Homo sapiens: one gene and its partners. The protein of the gene in region 1 interacts with the protein of each later gene in a pairwise test. Each region holds a gene or a part of one and is shown on either strand. Other genes may lie near its edges. The genes, in order: HOMER1, RASAL3, NUP54 and BRME1.

Region 1 (7,035 bases):
TTATTGGAGTAACTTTCCTATAGGTAACAATTGCAAATTGTGGGCAAAATGTAAAAGTCAACTGTTTGAAGGACCTGGTGAGTAACCAAATTGGGCAAAAGACTGCAAGAAAGCAGTCACTTTGGGTGATTTCCACATCTTTTTGCCTGAAGGTACTCTGCAGTCTGGCTGCATTGCTTGACTGAACAAGCAGAAATCCATAGTCTTATTTCTCTGAGAAGCCTGAGAATTTTAGGACTCTGCAGAACACCTGGCACAACTAGGAGTAGGAAAAGAGCTGGAAGGCTGAAAGAACTAAACTGCGATGGTGCTCAACAGAGATGACAGTTTGAAGTTCTGCTAGTCCCTGCTAAATTAGAGGGCCTTGGTAAATACCTCAAGCTTTGCAGTGAAACTTTGGAAAGGGTTATGTCTTAGAGATAAAGATTTCCTAGGACAATGTGATTTACCCTAGGGTTACAGCAAAATTGAAATACATGAATTCTAACAAAGCATAAGTACACAACTCCACAAATTCAAGATAATCTCCAAATAACTGCCTGTTGAAACAAAAACTCAACATTATTCAAAAATAACAAAATCTGTGGTCTCTACAACATCTCATTTGCAATGTCCAATACAAAATTAAAAATGACTAGTCATTTTTCTGAAAAAACAGTAAAATGTAACTTATAATCAAGACAAAATTTATCTAAATAAAAGTGGAGATAATTTGTTGGCAGTACACTTGGAGTACAAAAACTGCTCAAGGAGGTTATTCAGGCTGAAGGGAAACAATACCTGATAGAAATTCAGATCTACAGGAAAGAAGCACAATGGAAACTGAAAATATGTGAGTAAATAAATATATTATGTTTCTTAAGTTCTTTAATATTCAATTGACTATTTAAAGAGAAAATTTCTTAAGGGCAGAGATTACACAATAAGGAGACATGATAGCTCCTTAATATTTTCTGGCTATGACAATTGTCATAAATTTTTTTTTGTGGTAAAAAACATATATCATAAAATTTATCATCTTAGTCATTTTAAGTGTATAGTTCAATAGTGTTAAGTATTTATATTCACATTGCTGTGAAACAGATCTCCAGAACTTTTTTAACTTGCAAAACTGTAAGTCTATACCCATTAAACAACTCTCCTTTCCCCCACCTCTCTTAAGTTAATTTTTACACACAGGATAGAATAACATTTACTCAAGTTTCTAACATTTCCACTCTGTCTCAACTGCATTTCCTTTTCTTTCTTTTTTTTTTTTTTTCTGAGATAAGGCCTTGCTCTGTTACCCAAGCTGGAGTATGCAGTGGCGTGATCTCAGCTCACTTTAGCCTCTGCCTCCTGGGCTCAAGTGATGTTCCCACCTCAGCCTCCTAAGTAGTTGGAACTATAGGGACATGCCATCACACCCATCTAATTTTTGTATTTTTAGTGGAGATGGGGTTTCACCATGTTGCCCAGGCTGGTCTTGAACTCCTGGGCTCAAGCAATCCATCCTCCTTAGCCTCCCAAAGTGCTGGGATTATAGGTGTGAGCCAATGTGCCCAGCTTGGAATTTTTTTTAAAAGGAGAAATTAAAGGCATCTGTTGGGTGAAGCACTTCTATGCCTTGAATTAAAAAAAAAAAAACTTCTTCTTTTTTTTTTTTGTTTTTTAGAGACAGAGTCTTGCTCTGTCACCCAAGCTAGAGTGCAGTAGAGCCATCATAATTCACTGCAGCCTCCAATTCCTGGGCTCAAGCAATCCTTCCCACTCAGCATTCCAAGTAGCTAGGACTACAGGCGTGTGTCCCCATGCTTGGTTAATTAAAAAAAAAAAAGAAAAAAGATTTTTTTTTTTTTTTTTTTTAATGGAGATGGGGTCTTGCCATGTTGCCTGGGCTAATCTCAAACTCTTGGCCTGAGAGCATTAAAACACTTTACAAGTAATTATCTGGGCTTCTGATATTAATGGTATTGAAATTTCTGGTTTTCTTTTTCTGCACCAAATCTCTAATATTACCAAAGTTAATAATTTTCTACTTGTATTTTTCAAATTGTTCCTTCTTTAAAAAGAAAATAATAAAAGCAGCTCATTGACTCACTGCAACTCATTGAGACAGTGCAATTACACGGCACTTAAGTGTCTCAACAAATTTTCATAGGAATTGTACAGAATACATACTTTTGACTCAGTGCAACTACATGCCAATTAAGTATTCAATTAATCTTCACAGGAATTGTACAGAGTACTTATTATTCCTATTTTACAGATGAGAATACTGAGCTGGAAGAAGGAAATAACTTATCAAAGATCATACAGATAATAACCGGCAGAACTGGAATTCGCACTCTGGAATACTCTGGTCTTGTAAACCAGAAATGGAGAATCCCCTCCCCAGGACAACTCAGGAGAAAAGCATTCCCGCTTCACCGTCAACACCCAAAGCTAAAATTCTAATTAAACTACTCCCTGAATTTTTTCTCAGCACACACTTTAACTACCATGTCAGTACTAATCAACTAGCACTAATACATTAGTGCTTTTATGTACTTGTGCATTACTGCTAGTCCCCATGGATAATATGGGGAATCAACATGGTTTGTTGACTTCAAAAGGCGTATATTCTTCATTCTCATTAAACTATGGAAAATATTTTTCTTAATCAAACAAATGCATATCATACAACCCATATCTATGTTCTGACATCCTAGAACTAGAAGATATCCCTGTGCTGAATCTACATGCAAATTTCTTCTGATCAAGAAAACCTGTTAGCCCTAAATCCCTATAGACATCAGCCCTGAAATTACCCGCTTGTGCAGACGTTCTGCTTCCTCTTGATAGGCAGCAAGTTGCTGTTTCCATTGTTTCACATTGGCAGTGGACTCCAGCAGGGCTGCAGTGAGTTTGGCATTATTTCCTTTGAGGGTAGCCAGTTCAGCCTCCCAATGTTTGCTGATTGCTGAACTAAAATAAAACAAAAAGAAAATTCTATCCATTACACCAACTACTGTTACCTTGAAGGGACAGCAAGACTCAGTTCTATTGTAGGGTTTATAGTCTAAGAATGTTTTCTTTTCTTTTTTTTTTTTTTTGAGATGGAGTCTCGCTCTGTTGCCCAGGCTGGAGTGTAGTGGCGCAATCTTGGCTCACTGCAACCTCCGCCTCCTGGGTTCAAGCGATTCTCCTGCCCCAGCCTCCTGAGTAGCTGGGACTACAGGCACACGCCACCATGCCCAGTTAATTTTTTTGTATTTTTTTAGTACAGACGGGGTTTCCCATGTTGGCCAGGCTGGTCTTGAACTCCTGACCTCAGGTGATCCACCTGCCTCAGCCTCCCAAAGTACTGGGATTACAGGCGTGAGCCACTGTGACCAGCCCTAAGAATGTTTTCAAAGACAACCTCAAAATACTAAAAAACACAAATACTTTACCAAAATATTCCTAGTAAAGAAAACCTGGCAAGTGAAGAAATATAAAAAGTACTCAAGTACCAGGCTTAACGTGGAATGTTTCCAACCTTCATTATGACAGATACAGTTATCTACAGAAGAGTTTCCACCCATTCTCTTTTAAGGAATAAACATTATAGCCTGAAAAACATCTATTAAAAAAACCTAACAATGTATTACATTTTTTACGTGTGTCAAACCCTAAAGTACAATGTTATTCCTTAATGAAAACATATGAGGATGCTTAAATGTCATAAGGTTTGGGATATGTAATGTAGTATTTCTTTTGAAATTGTTTTTGATTTATTTCATCTTATTCAGGACCTTAAAATGTCAAAAATACAAACATTTGCTACAATAAACTGATTTCATAGGAAAGGCTAGGCCTACAAACTGGTTCTAAAGACTTGACTTCTGATATAATTCCAGTGTCATAAATAGAAGAAGACTAAAGCAATCACCGTTTTTCCTCATTTAATATTCTACTTGATAAGTTACTACAGTTAAGTACCTCAACTAAAACAATTTTCTACTACAAGACAATTCTTTTAGTTGGAAAGACTCCTCTTGAAAATTCCTTTCCTAACTTTCCAATGAAGAATTGCCTCATTAGAAAGAAAAAGGTTGTTTCTCTTTCTCATTATTGAAGTTTATTTCTATTAGTTAAATTCTACTAACCTCATCCCATTAACTAACTAGTGAGGCTTATAGCTTTCTTCAATCACCATTTTTTGGGGGTTTGATAAATCATTTGTATTCTAGGGTAAATTTGATGGGTTGATATTTTATAGTAATTTTAGCATATATTTTATTTAAAAAGCATAGTTTTCATCACCAAGATTTCTAAAGTTTATCACCAGAAATATGACATATTAGCATCACGAACCCCCTGATATGATGTACAGAGAATGACACAAGATTGTGTCTGTAGTATTCTTGCAATAAATGCGTAACTTCAGTCAAACAATGAGAAAATATCATATAAACCCAAACTGAGGGACAATCTGTAAAATAACTGAAACTCTTCAAACATGTGAAGAAAATGAAGGAAACAGGAAATAACAGTTAAATGCAAGGTGGGATCTTAGGTAGGTTCCTAGAACAGAAAGGGAACATTGGTGAAAACTGAGGGTTAGTTAGTAGTATTGTATCAATGCTACTGCCCTGGATTTGATCATTGTATTATGGTTACACAAGATGTTAACATTAAGGGAAGCTGTGTGAAGTGTATACGGGCACTCTGTACAGTTTTTGTGATTTTTCTATAAGTCTAAAATTAGTTTAAAATGAAAAGTTAAAAATATTCCTAAAGTTTACTAAGTGAGAAAATATCATCAAAACATGAAAGGATAGAATCAAGCAACAAGCTAAGCTATTAACTTAACAATCCATTTCTATCCTGAAAAGGAAAGCTCTTTTCTTATTCTTCCTTTGTGAAATGATTTTTCAGATTCATGTCTTCTGAAAAAAGCATGCATGGATTCACCTGCTCTAACTGAATTATAGATTTTTCTTTAAACCACCTACCAGTTTTTCCCCTATAGAGATGCGTTTTATTTAAATGGAAACTTCAATCTGACGATTGACATCTTAGTGAACTAATTTAAACACTTGTTACATGTCAATAGCAAACACCTTTAAAAATTAACTGGAAGAAACAACAATTATTTACTCCTAAAATCCATTTGTCAAAATCACACAATTATAAAGTAAAATGGATTACCACATATTTATAGCAGGAGAAATAATTTTAAAATGAGGGTGTTTTTCTATTATATTTATGTGGGTTTTATTTTATAGTCACTAGACAGTAAAATCCATCAAGCATTTTATAACTGCTTACATCACAAGTATTCAGTAATTATCTGGGTAACCTCGGACCCAACACTCAAGCACTTTGGTTCTCAGTTCTTTATATGTCAAATAAATAGATCAGTCAAGATCTGTATTATCCAAATATTAGCATGTGGCTATTTAAATGTAATACTTCAAAATTAAAGTAAAAAATTCAGCTTTGAATTTGAGACACATTTCATGCACTCAACAGCCACACATGACTGGTGGCTACTACCCTGGACAGCAAAGATAACAGAACATTTCATCATGACAAAAAGTTCTACTGAACAGTACTGTTCAAGAGGATCTTGACATTCTGCCTTTTCTTTCTTTCTTTCTTTCTTTGAGATGGAGTTTCGCTCTTGTTGCCCAGGCTGGAGTGCAATGGCACAATCTCAGCTCATGCAACCTCCGCCTTCCAGGTTCAAGCGATTCTCCTGCCTCAGCCTCCCAAGTAGCTGGGAGGTGCCCACCACCACGCCCAGCTATTTTTTTTTTTTTTTAATATTTTTAGTAGAGATAGGGTTTCACCATGTTGGCCAGGCTGGTCGCTAACTCCTGACCTCAGGTGATCCACCCGCCTCGGCCTTCCAAAGTGCTGGGATTACAGGCATGAGCCATCGTGCCCGGTCCTGATTGCCTCTTCGATTCTGTGCGTGAGGCTGAACTGTGTCCCTCCAAAACTCATATATTGAAGTTCTAACTCCCAGGATCTCACAGTATGACTGTATTTGGAGACAGAGTCTTTAAAGAGGTAATTAAGGTTTAATGTGGTCATTAGGGTGGGCCATAATCCAGTATAAATGGTGTCCTTACAAGAGGAGGGGATTAGGACACAGACACACGAACATAAAAAGAGACGACAGCCATCTACAAGACGAGGAGAGAGGCCTCGGAAGAAATGACCCTGCAGACGCCTTGATCTCAGACTTCTAGCCTCCAGAACTATGAGAAAATAGATTTCTATAGTTTAAGCCATGCAGTCTACAGCATTTTTTAGGACAACTCAAGCAAACTAATAAACATAATTTTTTAAACCCACATTATGTAACCTATCAATTTGCCCCATCTTCCTGAATTGAAGTACATGGATTATATTTCCTGTTCTAATCAAGCTGGCTTTTCTGTGATGAGCTCTTCTTCTCAATCAGATTCTCATTTTTTTCTATGAATTTTTGTCCAATTTTTTCTATATTCAGAATCTATCAGATTGCATTTTTTCCTTTCATTGATTCAAGTTTTCTCCAACAAGTATTTTCCAGTTATTACACCCATCCTTTCACTTACCAGCAAAACCTGGTGCTTGCCAATCTGTGCAAGCTTAGTCAATGCACTAAATGAAAAGTAAAGGTATTCACTATGAAATAAGTGCAAGGCTAACCTCAGATCAAATCAATTAATGAGTAGTAAATTTTATAACACTAATTTTAATAAAACTTTCAACACTAATAAAAACCTCAAATATAAATATTTTAGCTCTCACATCAGGGATGGAATTTCACACTAGTTTTGGGTAGTAGAATCATATGGAGTTTCTTGACTCCCATTTTAAACTTATCAGGCATGCATATACGGTAACAGGGATTTCATCTATAAAACACTGTAGACCTGGAACATGGAGAATCTACAACAAACCTGTTTAAGAAAAGGTTGGTATTCCTGAACTAGTTGCCTTGTTTTGGCGTAATTTACAAGTTAATACCGATTGGCAGAAGTACTTTTTATATGAGTAGTCTAGGTAGTTATAACACCACATCAATTATTTTAA
Region 2 (3,456 bases), on another chromosome or scaffold:
ACCTATCCGTCTGCCGTTTGCTCCACCCACTCTACCCCTCACCCATCCACTCACCCATGATTTGAATGACTCATTTACCCAATCATTCATACACAGTATCCAACCATCTCCACACCTGACCCCCTTCCTTTATCCGCCTCCCAGACCCATGGCCTCCGTGACATGAGGAGGGCCTAGGAAGATGCTCTCACTGTGGGATTGGGAGGTTGCCAGGGGTGGAATCCATGCTTCATTGAGAAGCAGGTGCTGCCTATAACAATGGTGAATACCTTTTATCGAATGCCTTTAACTATGGGTCCTCTCACTGTGTAGGGAACTTTACGTCCATTTCACAGATAAGAAAACGGGCTCTTAAGAGAATGAAGGTCTAAGGTCACACAGCTGGTGAGAACTTGTGTACATGGCCCTCTCCATGAGACTTCTAATTAGGGGAGAATTTGGGAGAGATGAATAGGGCTTGCGGGGCAAATGCCTAAGAATTGGCAATTCTTAGTGGGCAAAGAAACCACCAATTTCACTGAAATCAAGATTTTACTGGGCAACTTCATACTGCCAGAGTGGTTGGGACCAGCAGCTCCACTCCCCACTGTAGGCCAAGTAGGGCTAAGGCAAAGTCAGACACCCCCCCTAAGATGGCTATCTCTCTGCTCCCAGACCACGTGTGATGAGGCAGGATGGGCAGCTCAGGTGGTGTCTCCATTGAGGCAGGGTGCTTTGAGGGGCTGGGGTTGACTCCAAGACCCCCGCGTCCTTGGAGAAAGCTGCAGGCTCTGGACAGCATCCCTCAGCTGAGCCTGAGTTCTCTCCATCTCATTTAGGCGGTGCTCCTGGGGAGGCAGTGGTGATGGGGTTCAGAAACCAGGAGAGGGCTGCACCGCAACCCTTGCTCCTCCACCGCCCAGACCTGCCCCAGGGCTCAGATGGCAATCTCACCAGGTTTTTCAGACTGTGCCCTTCATTGCTTGTTAGGTTGTGCTCTGAATCAAACTCTGAGCTCCTGTGGGGGTCGGGGGATTGGGGCGAAGGGCAGAGGCTAAGGAAGTCCCTTCCAGCTCCTGGTGGGAGTGCCAGGGACTCCGGGGGCGGAGCTTGGAGTGGAGGCGGAGCTTGTCCAGACTGAGGGGCGGGGCCTAAATATGCTTGAAGAAGGGTCGGACCAGAGACGGGAATGGTTGGAATGACAGGACCTATCAATCATCCCTTGGAGGTGGGGTTTGGCCAGTCCTGGGTGGGGTCGTGACTGAGCTGGAGGGAGTGCCCAGGCTGAGATATCTCAGTGCCCGGCCCAGCCAGGTTGGGAGGGGCTGATGGAGGGGTGGGGCCTGGATGAGAGAATCTGCCAGGGTCCTAGGCCGACCTTCGTTGGGTGGGTCCACCTGGGGGCGGGGCTTGCCAAGAGGCAGGGCCTGGACAGACTTATTGGGGCGGGGCCAGGGTGGGGCTTGGCCGTGCTAGGCGTGGTTTGGGGGGGGGGGGGAGGGCCTGGTCAGATCTAATTGGATCGGGCCCACCTGGGGGCGGAGCTAATGGAGAGGGCTGGGCTCACCCAGCACGGAGCCTGGAGTCCAGATCCTGCAGCTGGCCCCGCAGCTGCTCCTGCTGCTCCGTCAAGGCCCGGATTTGGGTGCTCAGCGACTCCACGAGGCGGGACAGCACTTTCTGCTCCTCACGCAGAGCGGCCACCTCGCACTGCAGCTCTGCCAACTGTGGTGGGAGAGCAGCTGTAATCTGACCCGTTGTCCCGCCCCTGTGTCTCCCCGGAGACCCTGACCTCCCAGGCCCAAGCGCTCAGCGTCATCACCGGCCTGCCTAGTTGGGGAACATCCCTCCTGCGGTACAGCTGGGGAGACTGAAGCTCAGAGAGGGTCGGGCTAGGCCTGGGGTCACACAGCACAGCGAGCTGGGTACTTGAACCCAGACTTGCCTGGCCCTTCAGTCTTCCCCAGTCGCGTCCCTGTTCCCACTCCCCAGGCGCGGACCTGGGCCTGACCTTACCTTGTTCACAGGTCGGTGCGTGCCCAGTGCCTGGTTTCGGTCTTGCGGCTGGTCCATTTGGCGCTGCCAGGGTACCGACGGCTTCCGAGGCAGCGAGGCGGAGTCCCGGGTCCAAGGCCGGGCGCGGGGCGCTGGTCCCATGCTCAGGGAGCCTTTGGGTCGCGGCCAGGGCCCCGCAGATTGGCGGCGGCGGGCAGGACGCCGGACCGGGACACTCTGCGTGCGCTGCACCGGCCGGGGCCGCCGCAGGGGCCGCTCTTCGTCCGGCCGTGGCCGGGCCCAACTCTCTGAGCGGCGAACGCTGCGCAGAGACTGGCTCTTGGAGATGAGAGGGGTGTGCTTGGGGAGGTCCCGGGGGGCCAGGAAGCCGGGCTTCTCCCCTGCGGAGAGGCTAGGGGTGGGATGGAGGATCTTAGACCCTCCACTGGCCCCTGAGACGACCCCATCCCGACCTGACCAGAAGTGACCTCACCCCCCACGTGAACTTGTCCTTTCTTTTTTTTTTTTGAGACAAGGTCTTGCTCTGTCGCCCAGGCTGGAGTGCAGTGGCTAGATCATAGCTCACTGCAGCCTTGAATTCTGGAGCTCAAGCTATTCCCCAGCCTCAGCCTCCCAAATATCTAGGACTACCAGCACATGCCACTATACCCAGGTAATTTTTTTTTTTTTTGGTAGAGATGGGGTCTCCCTATGTTGCCCAGGCTTGTCTTAAGTTCCTGGCCTCAAGTGATCCTCCTGCCTCAGCCTCCCAAAGTGCTGGGATTACAGGCATGAGCCACTGAGCCTGGCTCCTGTCCTTGACTTCTGACTATAATACTGTCCTCTCTATGACCCTTGACATCTCTCCACCCTAACCTCTCCTCTCATCCCCGACCTCAAACACACTGTGACCTTTGACCCAACCCTTTCTATAACCTGTGATTCCCGTCTGACCCTGGGCTTGACCTCTGCTCACAATGATCCAACTTCACCTCTGACCCCTGTCTGAGCCCTGCTCCTTCCTGTTCCCACCCATCAGACCCCAGACCAGACTTGAGGTTACCTGGAGTGGACCTGGGCCGGGGGCAGTGGGAGACGCATTGGCACTGACACAAGCACAGGCTGGCCCTCCTCAATGGCTCGCAGGATGGTGGGCAGTGGTTCCAGGGTGTCTCGGGTTGTCTGGTGAGGCATGCAGGACAGAGACTGAGCAAAGTCTCCAGGGTCAGAGTCTCCCAAGCCTTCTTGCCTCCCTACTCTGGGTTCAGGCCATACCTGGTCAAGCTCAGCAAAAATTGTACAGAGCTGGGCATGCAGGACAGCTAACTGGAGGGCCAGATCACCACTGCCCTGGTAACCACTGGGGGCAGCATCCACATCCACCATGGCTACCTGGTCCAGGAAGCATTGCATGGCTGGTCCATGTTCCTCCAGGAAGCTATTCATGAAGCCCATGTAGGCCTCCTTCTCACCGAACCTGGA
Region 3 (7,035 bases), on another chromosome or scaffold:
AGCCCTTCTCCCTTAAATTTCCTGACAACACAGTCTCTCTTGGTTTTTTATAAACACATTCATTCATTCATTCACCATTAATTCATACAACAAATATTTACTGAGTACCTACTAAGTGCTCAGAGCCAAATACTAAAGATACAGTGGTAAACAAGGTAGACAAGGTGCATTAAACAAACTGAACACATCAAACAAATATTAACAATTGTGATAAGTCCTTCAGAGAAGTACAGAGGTTCTGGGAGTACTAAATAAGGGAGCTGATCAAGCCTGAGAGAGGGGTCAAGAGAAGACAGTTCCATTAGCACTTCAGTTAGGGCCTAAAGGAAGGAGTCAGCTAAGCCATGGGGTAGAGGTAAAGGCCAACAGTATGTGTAACATCTCTGTAGAGACAGAGAGAGGAAGATGAGTGGACAAAAGCAATAAGGAGGACTAACAATGAGGTAGGAAAAAACTAGACTGGAGTGTCACAGAAGTTAAGGTCTCCCACTGGCCAAATGCAACAACTGAAACATATTTATTAAAGCCCATGCATTCAAAATGGTAATTTTATAAAGTAAAGATCAAATTTTTTTTAAATCCTAACTCCTTGGATACCATTAGAAATAATGAGACCGCCAACTCCTTTTTACAAAAATTGTCCATTAAAAAGAAAAAAAATTATCTTGCCTTTACTATACAAACTGTACATCAGGGTGATCAAGCAGTCTTGGAGGATGAAGAAAAAGTTCCTTTTACAGAAGAAATTTCAGTGTGATAGGGAGGAAATTAGAAAATCACCATTTTGCAACTCCTAATAAGATAACTGATTGAGGCAATGATCATCAAGGAATGAAACCATTAGGTTAAAGTAGTAAGATAAAGATACGCTGTCACCATCTGAACCTACTGATCAATCTTAGCATCACCAAAAGTGAGATAGCCTCTCAACGTGACGTGATATGAAGCACACAGCACCACTTGCAAAATGTTCTTACCAAAAAAGCAAACGTCAAGTCCCTAAAGCAAACTTTATTTACCACAATTATGAGAGATAAAGTTAAATAATATTACAAGGAAGCAGAAGAAAAATACAGAATGGGGGGCATTTAACAAGACAACTGGAAAATTCATGAGGGAAAAAACAGAATGGGGAATTCTCTACACTAAAAAGAACTTAAGGGACATGACAAGAAAATGAATGTGTGGTCCTTGTTTGGATCATGATTCAAACAAACCAAATAAGAAAACGCTTTTGAGACAAATAGGGAACTCTGGTTATAGATGGGGTATTAGATAGTACCAAGGAATTATTGTGGGTTGGAATGAGGTACACATTTTTAAAGAGAGAAGTATAGTAAAGTAAGCATGAAATGACACGCTTGGGATTTGCTCTCAAATACATCAGTGATTTAAAAAAAGGAAAAAGGAGATGGACAATAACAAGTTCTGACTTTTGATGACTCCAGCTGGTAGGGTTCACATCACTTCTTTTTTTCTTTGTTAGCATTTTTCATAAAGAACAGTAAGTGTTCACTGGATTTACTGAGATGATTAATGACCTTAACTTATTTGATAAAATAAAGAAAACAGAAACCAGATTGGCGAATAGTTTGTAAAGGGGAGGAGAGTGGTAGCTGAAGTGAAATGTGGGATTAAAGTAGTTTTGTTGTTGTTGTTATTACTGTTTCAAGAAAAAATAAACTTTGAGTTACTTAAATGTGGATGAGAAGGTGAAGACTGGGGAACGGAGTACAGCTAGAATAATCAACAGCACATGCGCCCTGAAAAGGCAGGAGGTTATAAGATCCTGAGTCAGGTAAAAAGAGGAAAAGGTGGATAGAGGGAGAAAAAAAATAGATTTGGTGGAGGGAAGTTGAAGGAATTGCAATAAGGGATTTTATTTTCTCTTTGGTTTTTTTTTTTTTTTTTTGAGACAGAGTCTTGCTCTGTCACCCAGGCTGGAGTCCAGTGGTGCGATCTCAGCTCACTGCAACCTCTGCCTATGGGGTTCAAGCAATTCTCATGTCTCAGCCTCCCGAGTAACTGGGACTACAGGTGTGCACTACCACGCCCATCTAATTTTTGTATTTTTAGTGGAGATGGGTTTCACCATGTTGGCCAGGCTGGTCTCTGACCTCAGGTGATCCGCCCACCTCAGCCTCCCAAAGTGCTGGGATTACAGATGTGAGCCACTGCGCTCAGCCCTTTTTTGTCTTGGAAGTAGCAGTCAAGGCCATCTGCTAAAAGTAAGAACAGATAAATTTGAGATTTGAAGAGAATAAAGGTTTAAAATTACTGCTATAGAAAGCAGGAGAATAAGTTGAAAGTAGAAATTTCACAGGATTACCAGGCAACATTGAGACCTGAGGTTGGTGATCAAGAATTTAGAGAGGTATTATCCCCTCTTCCATAATGTGTGATCTTTCTCAAGCAATATCTACACAGACAGTTGGGCTTACAAAGGCTTGGGGTTTTTTCAGGCAAATGTGACACAAAAACAAGGAAGTTTAGCATATTGGCAAGAGATATAGAAATGGAAGGCCATGGAATCTAAGCTAGTTAGAGTAGTGAAGACAGAAAGAGCTAACAGAGCAGAAAGTATCAGTTGTCGAAAGATCCAACAGTCTTCTGAAGGATCCTCGATAATCCATGCTTTGGCTTGGAAAGGACTTCTGGCGGTTGTCACAAAGTCAAATGTGACTTTTCCCCTTGATTCACAGGTATTGCCAACTGAGATAGGAATAGCTGTGATTAGTAAAAGGGAGCTAATAAGTATGAGGAATACATGGACGGGCATCTCTATACTGAGATAGGACAAGCAGTGGTCCTAACAATGCTGCTCGCTAATTTATGGTCAAAATCCTACTTGGCTTGGGGATAGGAGATGGCAGCATTTAAGTGTTAGTGTTTCTAAGAGTTTTGTTCTAGTACTCTCCTCTTACTCTGGAATCAGGTCTCCTAAATTACATCATCCATATCTACCACTTTAAATACTACTTACGTTCTGATGGCTTTCATAAATATATACAACTACCCAAGGGACACCTCAAACTCATTATCTACCCACAAACATCTGCTCTTGCTTTAGTATTCTGGATCTTAGTGAAGAGCAAGGGATCCTTCAGTTACGCCACCCAGAAGCCCAAGATACCTTTATCCAGTCATTCGCTTTTATTGATTCTACAAGTTAAATCTCTCTCAAATTCACATCCTGTTTTTTCTCTCCATTCTTAACTGTCACTGCCTTAATTCAGGTCTTCACTATATCTTGCTCAGATTTTGGCAACAGCTTCACCAGATCTCTGCCTCCATTCCAACCCACCTATAATCTATCTTTGTATTTCTCTAAGAGATACTTCTAAAAATCTGATTATTTTCCTGTCTACTTAATCCTACAACAGTTTAGAATTGCTTAAAGGACAGCTCCTTAGTAAAACATATAAGGCACGCTAATAATCCAATTCATATCTATCTCTCCAACTCTCACTACTGACCCTGAGGTCATTTATGCATTAAAAAAACTGCACTGATCTAGTTATACTGGTCCCAAAGGCATTATACTCTGCCATAAACCATGCCATGTTATTTCCTCTGCGTGGATACCCTAGAATCTCCTTGACTATGAGCAAGGATTGTGGTCTTCAACCTTGTACACCCAATGCCTGACATACGATATATACAATAAATGGATATTACATAACAAAATGAGCCCCTTTCAATTTTAAAATAGCACCAGATTCAAATTCCCATTTTCCTAAAAAAACCAAATGTAACTACAGTTACTCATAGTTGGAGAGACTTTATTTCAAGAAACAAAGGAAACACTTCACTTTTGCTGTTCTTTCCTTAACTACTTAAATATTTCATCAAATTTTGTATTTTTGCAGGATTGTAGAAAAGACGAATGACTGGAATACTTGAAAGAATAATTCTGAGAATACTATTCTATTATCTTCATCCTACTGTTAGGCAATCCTTGAAATTCATGTTTAATAAGTTAATAACTAATCTTCAGTGACTGAGTAGGATGAATTTTAGCTAGTCAATCAAGTTACTTAAAAAAATGAAACAGAAGTAATTTTAAGAGGCATCAGATTGGAAAAGTGAAAAGAGCACTAGAATGAGTAGTTGAATTTGCATCCCTGTACTTCTTCTAGAGAGGTATACAGGTAAGTCACAATCTCTCAGGTTCCTCTCTTCACCCATAAAATGGGGATAACAAAAGTATTATTTCACAGGGTTCTTGTGAGAATAAGTTAATCCATACAGAACAACCCCTGGAACCTACTGCCATACCACCTAGTAAGGATGGTTAGTAAGGAAGCCATCAAAGACTAATAACCAGACTGTCTCAAAGGGACTTGGGAGCCAACTTGAAAAGGCTTGCACTGGCCAAAGATGTAACAATTTAAGCATCAATAAGAATGGTAACTGCAATGGATTAAAAAATAGTAACTAGTTTAAAGGCTGCAGTTTCTGACATTAAAAAAAAATTGGTCATCTTTGGAGAATGCTAGATAACCAACTCTTTATTCTGAAAACCAGTAATAAAGAGAAAGAATCAACCAAACAGATGAAGTCAAGTTTCTCCTCACAGAAGTATTTCAACAAATAAATGAATCCAGGTGGAATGGCACTATTTGTAACCCCTAATGAATTAATGGATCTAGGTAATGATCACCAATGGCTCAATGGCTGATCACTCAAAAAAAAAAGATATTATATGTCTTCTGATAAAAAATAGGCCTATAAAATAGTCTTGCAAACAAACAACAAAACAACAAAATATATATATGTACGCCCCAGATCTAACCCAATCATCAAGAAATACAGAGAACAAAGGAATGTGTTAAACTATACCATAGGCGTGCAATCAGAAAAGTCTTGACTAAAAAACTCTATAGGATAAATGATCTGTTTTCTTCAACAAATTAAAAAATAAAAAAGAGAGGCCAGGCGCGGTGGCGCACACCTGTAATCCCAGCACTTTGGGAGGCCGAGGCAGGCAGATCACGAGGTCAGGAGTTCCAGACCAGCCTGGCCAATATGGTAAAACTCCGTCTCTACTAAAAATACAAAAATTAGCTGGGCGTGGTGGTGTGCGCCTGTAGTCCCAGCTACTCAGGAGGCTGAGGCAGAAGTATCGCTTGAACCTGGGAGGCGGAGGTTGCAGTGAGCCGAGGTCGTGCCACTGCACTCCAGCCTGGGCGACAGAGCAAGACTCCGTCTCAAAAAATAAAAAATAAATAAAAAAGAGAGATAAAAGAGGAGCCTATGGAGATTTAAGACAGGCAAAACCAAATACTGTTTACATACTTGAATGACAAAATATAAAGTAAGAAAATGATCACCATAAAAGCCAAGACTGCAGGTCCTCTGATGGGGAAGCAATTGGTAGGGAAATGTGGTAGGCTTCTGAACTGGCTGGCCAGGAACCATCTCCTGACATGGGCAGTGATTACAAGGGTGTTAACCTTTGTAAACTTATATATAATTCATTAAGCTGTACTTTTGTGCAGTTTCTCTATTTGTTATTTTTAACAACAAAAATTTAAATGGAATGATCCTAAACACAGGGACCTTATAATCCTAACTGTGCCAATCAGTGTTCTCCCCAGTTGCTATCATATTTAAACATGAAAAGTAACATTCCTAATCCTTTGGAATATATTAATAATTCTTATAAAAAGTCCACTAAAGTATTCTGAATGCACTCAATAATGTCAGCTAGTATCATCACGGTTTTGTATTTGAAGCTGAAAACCTCATACTTACTAGTTTGCTGCTGCTGCTGTGTATTAAATCCTCCAAATCCCAGTCCAGTTCCCAAACCAGTACCTAAACCAGTACTAGTTCCCGTTGTTGTGCCAAAACCAGTACCAAATCCAAAACCTTTGTTCTGAGTACCACCAAAGAGTCCTTTGAATGAAAAATTGGAACTTCGTAAGTTAAAAAAAAAAAAAAATCTGACCTCTACTTCATTTACTTCTATGAATGACTTAAGATGGCCTCTTACCAGTAGTGCCTGTGTTAGTTGGGGCAGAAAAGCTGAATGCAGAACCTGCAGTTGTAGATGTTGTCCCAAATCCTCCAAACCCACCTAATTAAAAAAGAACAAAAATAGAAAGGAAGAATCTTTTGTATATATAAAGGCAACTTCTTTTTAAAATTATTTTATAATTGCTACATATAAAATCAAAATATATTGATCTAATTTTTCCTTTCCCTACTTTCAAGATCAATTTTTTAAAAAACTATACTACCAATCAAGAAGTCAAAATGTTACAAGAAATGAACTAAGCATTTAAAATAGAAATATCACAATGTAATATATACCCTTCAATTAAAGGGGTGGTTAACAGTTACAGCTGAGAAAACACATTAAGCCTATTGCCATAATTCTAAAATGACTATGTATGTACTTTTAGAGGAGGTGTTGCAAATTCATATGCCTAGAAGATTTAGACTGATAACAGTAAAGAGTAAAGTAGACTATGTGTTTACTGATAGGTGGAACTGTTTAAAATGAATAGTTTTTTAGATCAGCAGTTCCTAAATTCCAGCAGATACAAGAAAGGTAGTTTAGCAGTGTCACATATTCCCATTTTTTACCCCAAGAGAAACAGGAAATCTGGATTTTCTATGTAAAATTTATTGGTTTTTGGCTGGGCGCGGTGGCTCATGCCTGTAATCCCAGCACTTTGGGAGGCCGAGGGGGGTGGATCACAAGGTCAGGAGATCGAGACCATCCTGGCTAACACGGTGAAACCCCGTGTCTACTAAAAATACAAAAAATTAGCCGGGCGTGGCGGCGGGCGCCTGTAGTCCCAGCTACTCAGGAGGCTGAGGCAGGAGAATGGCGTGGACCCGGGAGGTGGAGCTTGCAGTGAGCCAAGATCTTGCCACTGTACTCCAGCCCGGGCGACAGGGTGAGACTCCGTCTCAAAAAAAAAAAAAAAAAAAAAATTTATTGGTTTTTAAACCCTAATTCAACTACTTTTTTTTGCAAGGAATTCAAATGTTTTGAAAACAGCATGCCAAACATATCACATT
Region 4 (7,428 bases), on another chromosome or scaffold:
GTCCCAGATTACTTCAAAATAAAAGTTTTCTTAAAAGTCTGGAAGAAGAATTGTTAACAGCAGTGTACATTTGTGTACTACCTTAGGTCAGTTCTGGGTGCTTTACAGATACTAATCCACATGTGAGCTCTAAGGGCAGGATTCTTCACCTTGGAGGACATTTGGGGCTGGATCATTCTCTGTGGCTGGGGGGCATCCTATGCATGGTAGGATATTTGAGCAGCATCCCTGGCCTCCACCCACTAGATGTCAGTATAATTTCCCCAGTTATGAAAACCAAAAAAAGTCTCTAGGCCGGGCACGGTGGCTCCCACCTGTAATCCCAGCACTTTGGGAGGCTGAGGCAGGCAGATCACCTGAGGTCAGGAGTTTGAGACCAGCCTGGCCAACATTGTGAAACCCTATCCCTACTAAAAATACAAAAATTAGGCGGGCGTGGTGGTGCACATCTGTAGTCCCAGCTACTTAGGAGGCTGAGGCTGCAGAATCGCTTGAACCCAGGAGGTGGAGGCTGCAGTGAGCCAAGATCTTGCTACTGCACTCCAGCCTGGACGACAGAGTCAGACTTGGTCTCCAAAAAAAAAAAAAATAAAGTCTCCAAACATTGCCAGCTGTCTCTGGAGGTCAAAATCCCTTCCTCTCACCTAGTTGAGAAACACTGCTCTAAAGGAAAGGGTAGTGGCTTTTATTATCCCCAATTTACAAAAGGGGAAACTGTGGCACAGAGGAAATCATCCACCACCACACACTGAGCAGAACTGGGATGAACCCAGGTTTTGGGCCCCAGAGTAAAACACTCAGCCACATACCGAGTGGCCTTGTAGTACATCAAGCATTATTCCAGGGGTCATCTCTGGGACTGGTTCCGCAGGGAGGCTGTCCCGCTGCCCTGAAGCCCGGGGAGGCCTCCTCTAAGCTGTGGGACCCCACCAGAGGCTTGCAGAAGCTCCAGAAAACTTTCACTTTTACTTTTCCTGTATGCCCTCTCCGTTATTTCTATTTTTCTTTCTTTCTTTTTTTTTTTGAGACAGGGCCTCAATCTATCAGTCAGGATGGAGTGCAGTGGTACGATCTGGATTCACTGCAACCTCCACCTCCCAGTTCAAGCAATCTTCCTGCCTCAACCTCCTGAGTAGCTGGGACTACAGGTGCCTGCCACCACGCCCAGCTAATTTCCTTACTTTACATTGTAGAGACAGGATCTCGCTATGTTGCCCAGGCTGGTCTTGAACTCCTGGACTCAAGCGATCCGCCCACCTCGGCCTCCCAAAGTGCTAGGATTACAGGCGTGAGCCACCACACCGGCCTTCTATTTTTCTTACCAGCATGAATTAAATCCTTTTTGTCTTTTTCTTTTTTTTGAGACAGAGTCTTGCTCTGTTGCCCAGGCTAGAGTGCAGTGGCACCATCTTGGCTCACTGCAACATCGGACTCCCAGGTTCAAACGATTCTCCTGCCTCAGTCTCCCGAGTAGGTGGGACTACAGGCATGTGCCACAACACCTGGCTAATTTTTGTATTTTTAGTAGAGACGGGGTTTCACCATGTTGGTCAGGCTGGTCTTGAACTCCTGACCTTGTGATCTGCCCGCCTCGGCCTCCCAAAGTGCTGAGATTACAGGTGTGAGCCACCGCACCCGGCCAATCCTTGCTTCCTTTTAAGGAGGTTAAGGCAGTCGTGTTAGCCAGATCTGCAATAAACAAGCCCACATTCTTCCCACAAGCAGAAGCAGAAATCAACAAGTGTCCATTTGAATGAACGTACCTGAGGTCCGCAGCTTCTTCCTCTTAGTCATTTTATCTTCCCCTTGAGAAATCTGAAAACAAGCAAAATCTCTCATCATTATAAGCAGTCTCTGTCTCTGTTTATATCCAGTGGCTTTGGCTGAGAGCAGAGGTTACCCCTACCTCCACCTCAGCCCATTTGGCTGCCCCAGGGGTCAGATGGCTCCCACTGGGACACAGGATGGGACACAGAGTCACAGCCACTTTGGGCCATGGCCAGGTAGGAATTCAAACCTCCTCCAAACTGAAGATCTTATGCCCAGGACCTGAAAGACAAATGGGCCCTGGGGGGTCCTTATAGATAGCCCCGGGGACCCAGACTCTGGTCCCTAGGATGAAACAGCCTGTGTGAAGCCCCTCCCTCCAGACTGGGGTATCTGGGGGCCCTTCCAAGGACACTTGAGGACTCTCCAGGGGCCTCTGGAGACCAGCCTGGCCAATATGGTGAAACCCCCTCTCTATTAAAAACACAAAAATTAGCCTGGGCATCGTGACGCACACCTGTAATCCCAGCTACTTGGGAGGCTGAGACAGTAGAATTCCTTGAACCCATGAGGCAGAGGTTGCAGTGAGCCGAGATCGCTCTACTGCACTCCAGCCTGGGCGACAGAGCGAGACTCCGTCTCAAAAAAAAAAAAAAAAATTAGTCAGGTGCGGTGGCACACACCCGTAATCCCAGCTACTCAGGAGGCTGTGGTACAAGGCCAGGAGGCAGAGGTTGCAATGAGCCAAGATCGTGCCACTTTAAAGGGGACAGCTGGGTCCTTGGAGGGGAAAGAGCTGCCATAGGCCGGTTTCTCCCAGCCTTGGGGGCGAGGCAAACCAGAACGGACCTGGGCCACAGAAGTCGTTGAGGACCCTCTGTCCTTATCAGAAACGAGCTCTGCCTGGATCAGTTGGGAATAAGTCGCTTGAATTATCCGCGTTACTCTTTTTGGAAAAAATAAATGGCCAAATTGGCCCTCACAGAACGCTGGAGGCCTCGAGTCCGGAGGTGAAAGATGGAAAGGCCTGAGGGTGGGCGCTGTAGACCCCGCTCCCGGTGACAAGCCCCACACTGACACTACGCCGACCACCGAGAAGTGAGGACTCCACAGGCCGAGAGCCCACGTGAAGCCGGAGCCCGTCGGTGACTGACAGACGCTCTGAACCCCACAGATGTCGCCGCCCCTCACACCTGCGCGCGCTCTGCCTCTTTCCCGCGCCCCGCGAGGTCCCGCCCCGCGCATGAGCGACGCAAACACCGCCCTCGCAGCCCGCGACAGTCAGCACCGCCCCAGCCAGGCGCCTGCGCGCCCACGCACTACCTGCCGGGAGTTGTAGTTTCGGCTCGGCAGACCCGGCGAGCCCAGTGGCCGCGCTCCGGTGCGGCGGCGCCCGAGGCCCGAGGCGGAAGTGGGACGGCCAAGCAGGGAAGCGAGGGCTCGGGATCGACGGCCGCGGGGCGCCGACGAGGAGTGCAGGACTCAGGAAGGGCGAGTGCGCGGCGACAGAGCCCGGGGAAGGAGGCAGGGCAAGGCCGGGCTTGGGGGCAGGTGGTCCGGGCATCCAGCCTTGAAGATGCACAAGAGGAAAGGACCCCCGGGACCCCCGGGCAGAGGCGCCGCGGCCGCCCGCCAGGTGAGTTTGCGCCCCACGGCCCGACCTGGGGATCCCTCCCCACCCCCGTCACTCGCTCAGGGAAGGGCCCCACCCCCCAGGGAAGCCCGATCTCCGCCCCACAGGTAAGCCCCGGTCCCCGCCTCCCCCCAGGTGAGGCTCCAACACCACCCAAGTGTGGCCTACTGGCCTTGGCTCCCCAGCTCCTGGGGCCCTGCCCCGGGTTCGGGGCCACCTGTTGCCACAGCTGCTCCAGTCGAGGAGGGGCAGTCCTCGGACTTGACACATCAAACCCTTGCATCAGTCGGGCCATGTCAGACTCTTTTTATTCCATTGTACAGATGAGGACTTTGAGACTCAGAGACGTGAAGACATCTGCCCAAGGTCATAGGGATTAACAGCTTGGCCAGGGCTAAGCACAAATCCAGGGCTGCAGCCATAAGCTTATGGCACTGTGGCTGGACCCCTTCTCACTCTCCCGACTTCTTTGCCCCAGGCACCAGATAGTTTGATTTTTCTCAGTTTTGATGGAAGGAGCCCAGGACATAGCTTGGTGTTCAGATATTAGAGTCTGGCTGACCTGAAGTTCCCTCCTGGCCTCTGTACATCGGACACTTGACTTTACAGCTCTGAGCCTCAGCTTTCTCATCTGTAAAATGGAGATCTCTATAATCCCAGCACTTCAGGAGATGGAGGCGGAGGCAGAGGTGGGAGAGTCATTTGAGGCCAGAGTTTGAGACCAGCCTGGGCAAAAGCAAGACCCCCGTCTCGACAAAAAAAGACTAACTGGGCATGGTGGCATGTGCCTGTAGTACTACTACTTGGGAGGCTAAGAAGGGAGGATTGCTTGAGCCCAGGAGTTCAAGACCGCAGTGAGCTATGATTGCGCTACTTCTGCTCCAGCCTGGGTGACAGAACAAGACTCTTTCTCTAAAATAAAGATAAAAAATTAAAAATGGAAGTCCGGGGTGGTGTCTCACACCTGTAATCCCAGCACTTTGGGAGGCCATGGCGAAACCCCATCTCTACTAAAAATACAAAAATTAGCTGGGCATGGTGGCGGGCACCTGTAATCCCAGCTACTCGGGAGGCTGAGGTGGGAGAATCGCTTGAACCGAGAGGCGGAGGTTGCAGTGAGCTGAGATCGCGCCACTGCATTCCAGACTGGGTGACAGAGCAAGGCTCCTTCTCAAAATAAATAAATAAATTCCTTCTGAAAATAAATAAATAAATAAAAAATTAAAAATGGAGACCTCCAAGAGACCCTACATTACAGGACAGTTGTAGAGAGTCATTGAGATAGTTTATGGAAAGTGCTAGAACATAGCACTCAATAAATGTTACTATTATCATTATTACTAGTTGGTGGAACCATACATAATTGCCAATATTTGGCCATTTTTTACCTACAGGAAAGGCAATTTCATATGGTTAAACACGATGTTATCACATCATGATTGGTCATTAGCCAAGATAGGAAGACGGGTCTGCATGGCAAACCTGCATTGTGGTTAGGGGTTCTTTTTTTGTTTGTTTGTTTTTGAGACAGAGTCTTGCTCTCTCGCCCCAGGCTGGAGTGCAGTGGCGCAATCTCGGCCCACTGCAACCTCCGCTTCCCGGGTTCAAGCGATTCTCCTGCCTCAGCCTCCCGAGTAGCTGGGATTACAGGCATGCGCCACCATGCCTGGTTAATTTTGTATTTTTTAGTAGAGACGGGGTTTCTCCCTGTTGGTCAGGCTGGTCTGTCTCGAACTCCCCATCTCAGGTGACCCGCCTGCCTCGGCCTCCCAAAGTGCTGGGGTTACAGGCGTGAGCCACCGTGCCCGGCCTAATTTTTGTATTTTTAGTAGTGATGGGATTTCACCATGTTGGCCAGGCTAGTCTCGAACTGCTGACCTCAGGTGATCCCCCCACCTTGGTCTCCCAAAGTGCTGGGATTACAAGCGTGAGCCACTGCACCTGGCCCTGTCGTCAGGGCTTCTAATTGCTCTTCTTTTTTTTTTGGAGACAGAGTCTTGCTCTGTTGCCCAGGCTGGAGTTTGGTGGCGCAATCTCAGCTCACTGCAACCTCCACCTCCCAGGTTCAAGCAATTCTCCTGCCTCAGCCTCCCGAGTAGCTGGGATTGCAGACACCGCCAGCACTCCCAGCTAATTTTTGTATTTTTAGTAGAGACGGGGTTTCACCATGTTGGCTAGGCTGGTCTCGAACTCCTGGATTACAGGCGTGAGCCACCGCATGCAGCCATCATGCTCTTGAAGCCCAACCTTCCCACACAGCCCCTCTGCTGAGGATGCTGGAAAGAAAAGCCCAAGTGTACAGAGTAGCTTTGCTTTGGGCAAAGTGTGGAGCCTGCTTCCTTCCCTCCTTCCCTCCCTCCCTCGCTTCCTTCTTTTTTTCCTTCCTTCCCTCCTTCCTCCCTCCCTCTCTCCCTCCCCGGCTCCATCTCTCTTTCTTTCTTTCCTTTCAACAGGGCTTTACTCTGTTGCCCAGGCGGAGTGCCGTAGCACAGTCATGGCTCACTGCAGCCTTGATCTCCCCAGGCTCAAGTGATCCTCCTGCCTCAGCCTCCCGAGTAGCTGGGACCACAGGCACACAGCACAACTCCCAGCTAATTTTAAAAAGTTTTTTTTCCTGTAATCCCAGCACTTTGGGAGGCCGAGGCGGGCAGATCATGAGGTCAGGAGATCGAGACCATCCTGGCTAACAAGGTGAAACCCCGTCTCTGCTAAAAATACAAAAAAAAAATTAGCCGGGCGTGGTGGCGGGCGCCTGTAGTCCCAGCTACTCGGGATGTTGAGGCAGGAGAATGGCATGAACCCCGGAGGCGGAGGTTGCAGTGAGCTGAGACTGCACCACTGCACTCCAGCCTGGGTGACAGAGCGAGACTCTGTGTCAAAAAAAAACAAAAAACAAAAAACTTTTTTTTTTTTTGTAGAGTTGGGGGTCTCACTGTATTGCCCAGGCTGGTCTGGAACTCCCAGACACAAGCCATCCTCTTGCCTTGGCCTCCCAAAGTGCTGGGATGACAGGCGTGAGCCACTGCGCCCAGCCAGGGGCCTGCTTTTCCCACTGAACTTGGCCCAGCAGCACATCATAAGTGTGGATTCAGATCAGAGAGCTGGGTCTCTTGCCCTTTGCCCCAGGTTGAACTGTGCCAGAGGGCCTGGCCTATCTTGGAACACCTGTTCTGGGCTTGTTCCAGCCTCCTGGCACTCCCCAGGGAAATGGCTTTCCCTGGGAGACCTTGTTTCCTTCCTCCCAAGGGGACTCTCTGGCCATCATGGCTGCCTCTAGCCATGTGGTGAACCAAAGGTCTGACTGAACCCTTGCTGTTCCCCTAGCTGGGCCTGCTGGTTGACCTCTCCCCAGATGGCCTGATGATCCCTGAGGACGGGGCTAACGATGAAGAACTGGAGGCTGAGTTCTTGGCTTTGGTCGGGGGCCAGCCCCCAGCCCTGGAGAAGCTCAAAGGCAAAGGTGAGATGGTTAACACACCCTCAGAACATTTTCTGATCTCCTGCAAGTGGTTCGGGCGCAGAACTGGGGGCACTGGGTAGGTAGGGGAAAGAAGACAGAGAAGACCCCTGTTCTCCTGGAGCCAATGATCTGGGTAAGAGAGTCAAGATCGACTCTGAGGCCGGGCACGGTGGCTCACGCCTGTAATCCCAGCACTTTGGGAGGCCGAGGCAGGCAGATCATGAGGTCAGGAGATTGAGACCATCCCGGCTAACACGGTGAAACTCTGTCTCTACTAAAAATACAAAAAAAAAAAAAAAATTAGCCGGGCGTGGTGGCGGGCGCCTGTAGTCCCAGCTACTCAGGAGGCTGAGGCAGAAGAATGGCGTGAACCAGGGAGGCGGAGCTTGCAGTGAGCCGAGATCGCACCACTGCGCTACAGCCTGGGCGACAGAGCAAGACTCCGTCTCAAAAAAAAAAAAAAAAAAAAAAAGATCAAGTCTGGACCGAGACTGAGAGTTGGAATCCGAGCTCTGCCACTTACTGGTTATGTGACTTGATGAGTCACATCATGTGCTTTGGCCTCAGT

What was found.
Region 2: the proteins of HOMER1 (region 1) and RASAL3 interact in binary tests that used the Homo sapiens proteins (3 or more experiments, as listed by UniProt).
Region 3: the proteins of HOMER1 (region 1) and NUP54 interact in binary tests that used the Homo sapiens proteins (3 or more experiments, as listed by UniProt).
Region 4: the proteins of HOMER1 (region 1) and BRME1 interact in binary tests that used the Homo sapiens proteins (3 or more experiments, as listed by UniProt).

What each region holds. Positions count from the first base shown.
Region 1 is NC_000005.10:79,399,110-79,406,144, forward strand, and holds part of HOMER1 (homer protein homolog 1), read right to left. Parts: intron 2,947-7,035; coding exon 2,790-2,946; intron 1-2,789. UniProt on the Homo sapiens protein: Postsynaptic density scaffolding protein. Binds and cross-links cytoplasmic regions of GRM1, GRM5, ITPR1, DNM3, RYR1, RYR2, SHANK1 and SHANK3.
Region 2 is NC_000019.10:15,451,112-15,454,567, forward strand, and holds the end of RASAL3 (RAS protein activator like-3), read right to left. Parts: intron 3,452-3,456; coding exon 3,250-3,451; intron 3,157-3,249; coding exon 3,038-3,156; intron 2,387-3,037; coding exon 1,996-2,386; intron 1,705-1,995; coding exon 1,547-1,704; intron 1,140-1,546; coding exon of another isoform or gene 1,034-1,139; exon of another isoform or gene 998-1,033; coding exon 934-997; intron 828-933; coding exon 684-827; 3' UTR 513-683; downstream 1-512. UniProt on the Homo sapiens protein: Functions as a Ras GTPase-activating protein. Plays an important role in the expansion and functions of natural killer T (NKT) cells in the liver by negatively regulating RAS activity and the down-stream ERK signaling pathway.
Region 3 is NC_000004.12:76,138,392-76,145,426, forward strand, and holds part of NUP54 (nucleoporin p54), read right to left. Parts: intron 6,083-7,035; coding exon 5,999-6,082; intron 5,902-5,998; coding exon 5,758-5,901; intron 1-5,757. UniProt on the Homo sapiens protein: Component of the nuclear pore complex, a complex required for the trafficking across the nuclear membrane.
Region 4 is NC_000019.10:13,903,099-13,910,526, forward strand, and holds the start of BRME1 (break repair meiotic recombinase recruitment factor 1), read right to left. Parts: upstream 3,020-7,428; 5' UTR 3,013-3,019; coding exon of another isoform or gene 2,617-3,012; intron 1,816-2,616; coding exon of another isoform or gene 1,795-1,815; coding exon 1,764-1,794; intron 1-1,763. Other genes in the region: CC2D1A (coiled-coil and C2 domain-containing protein 1A), read left to right, coding at 3,344-3,403, 6,725-6,860. UniProt on the Homo sapiens protein: Meiotic recombination factor component of recombination bridges involved in meiotic double-strand break repair.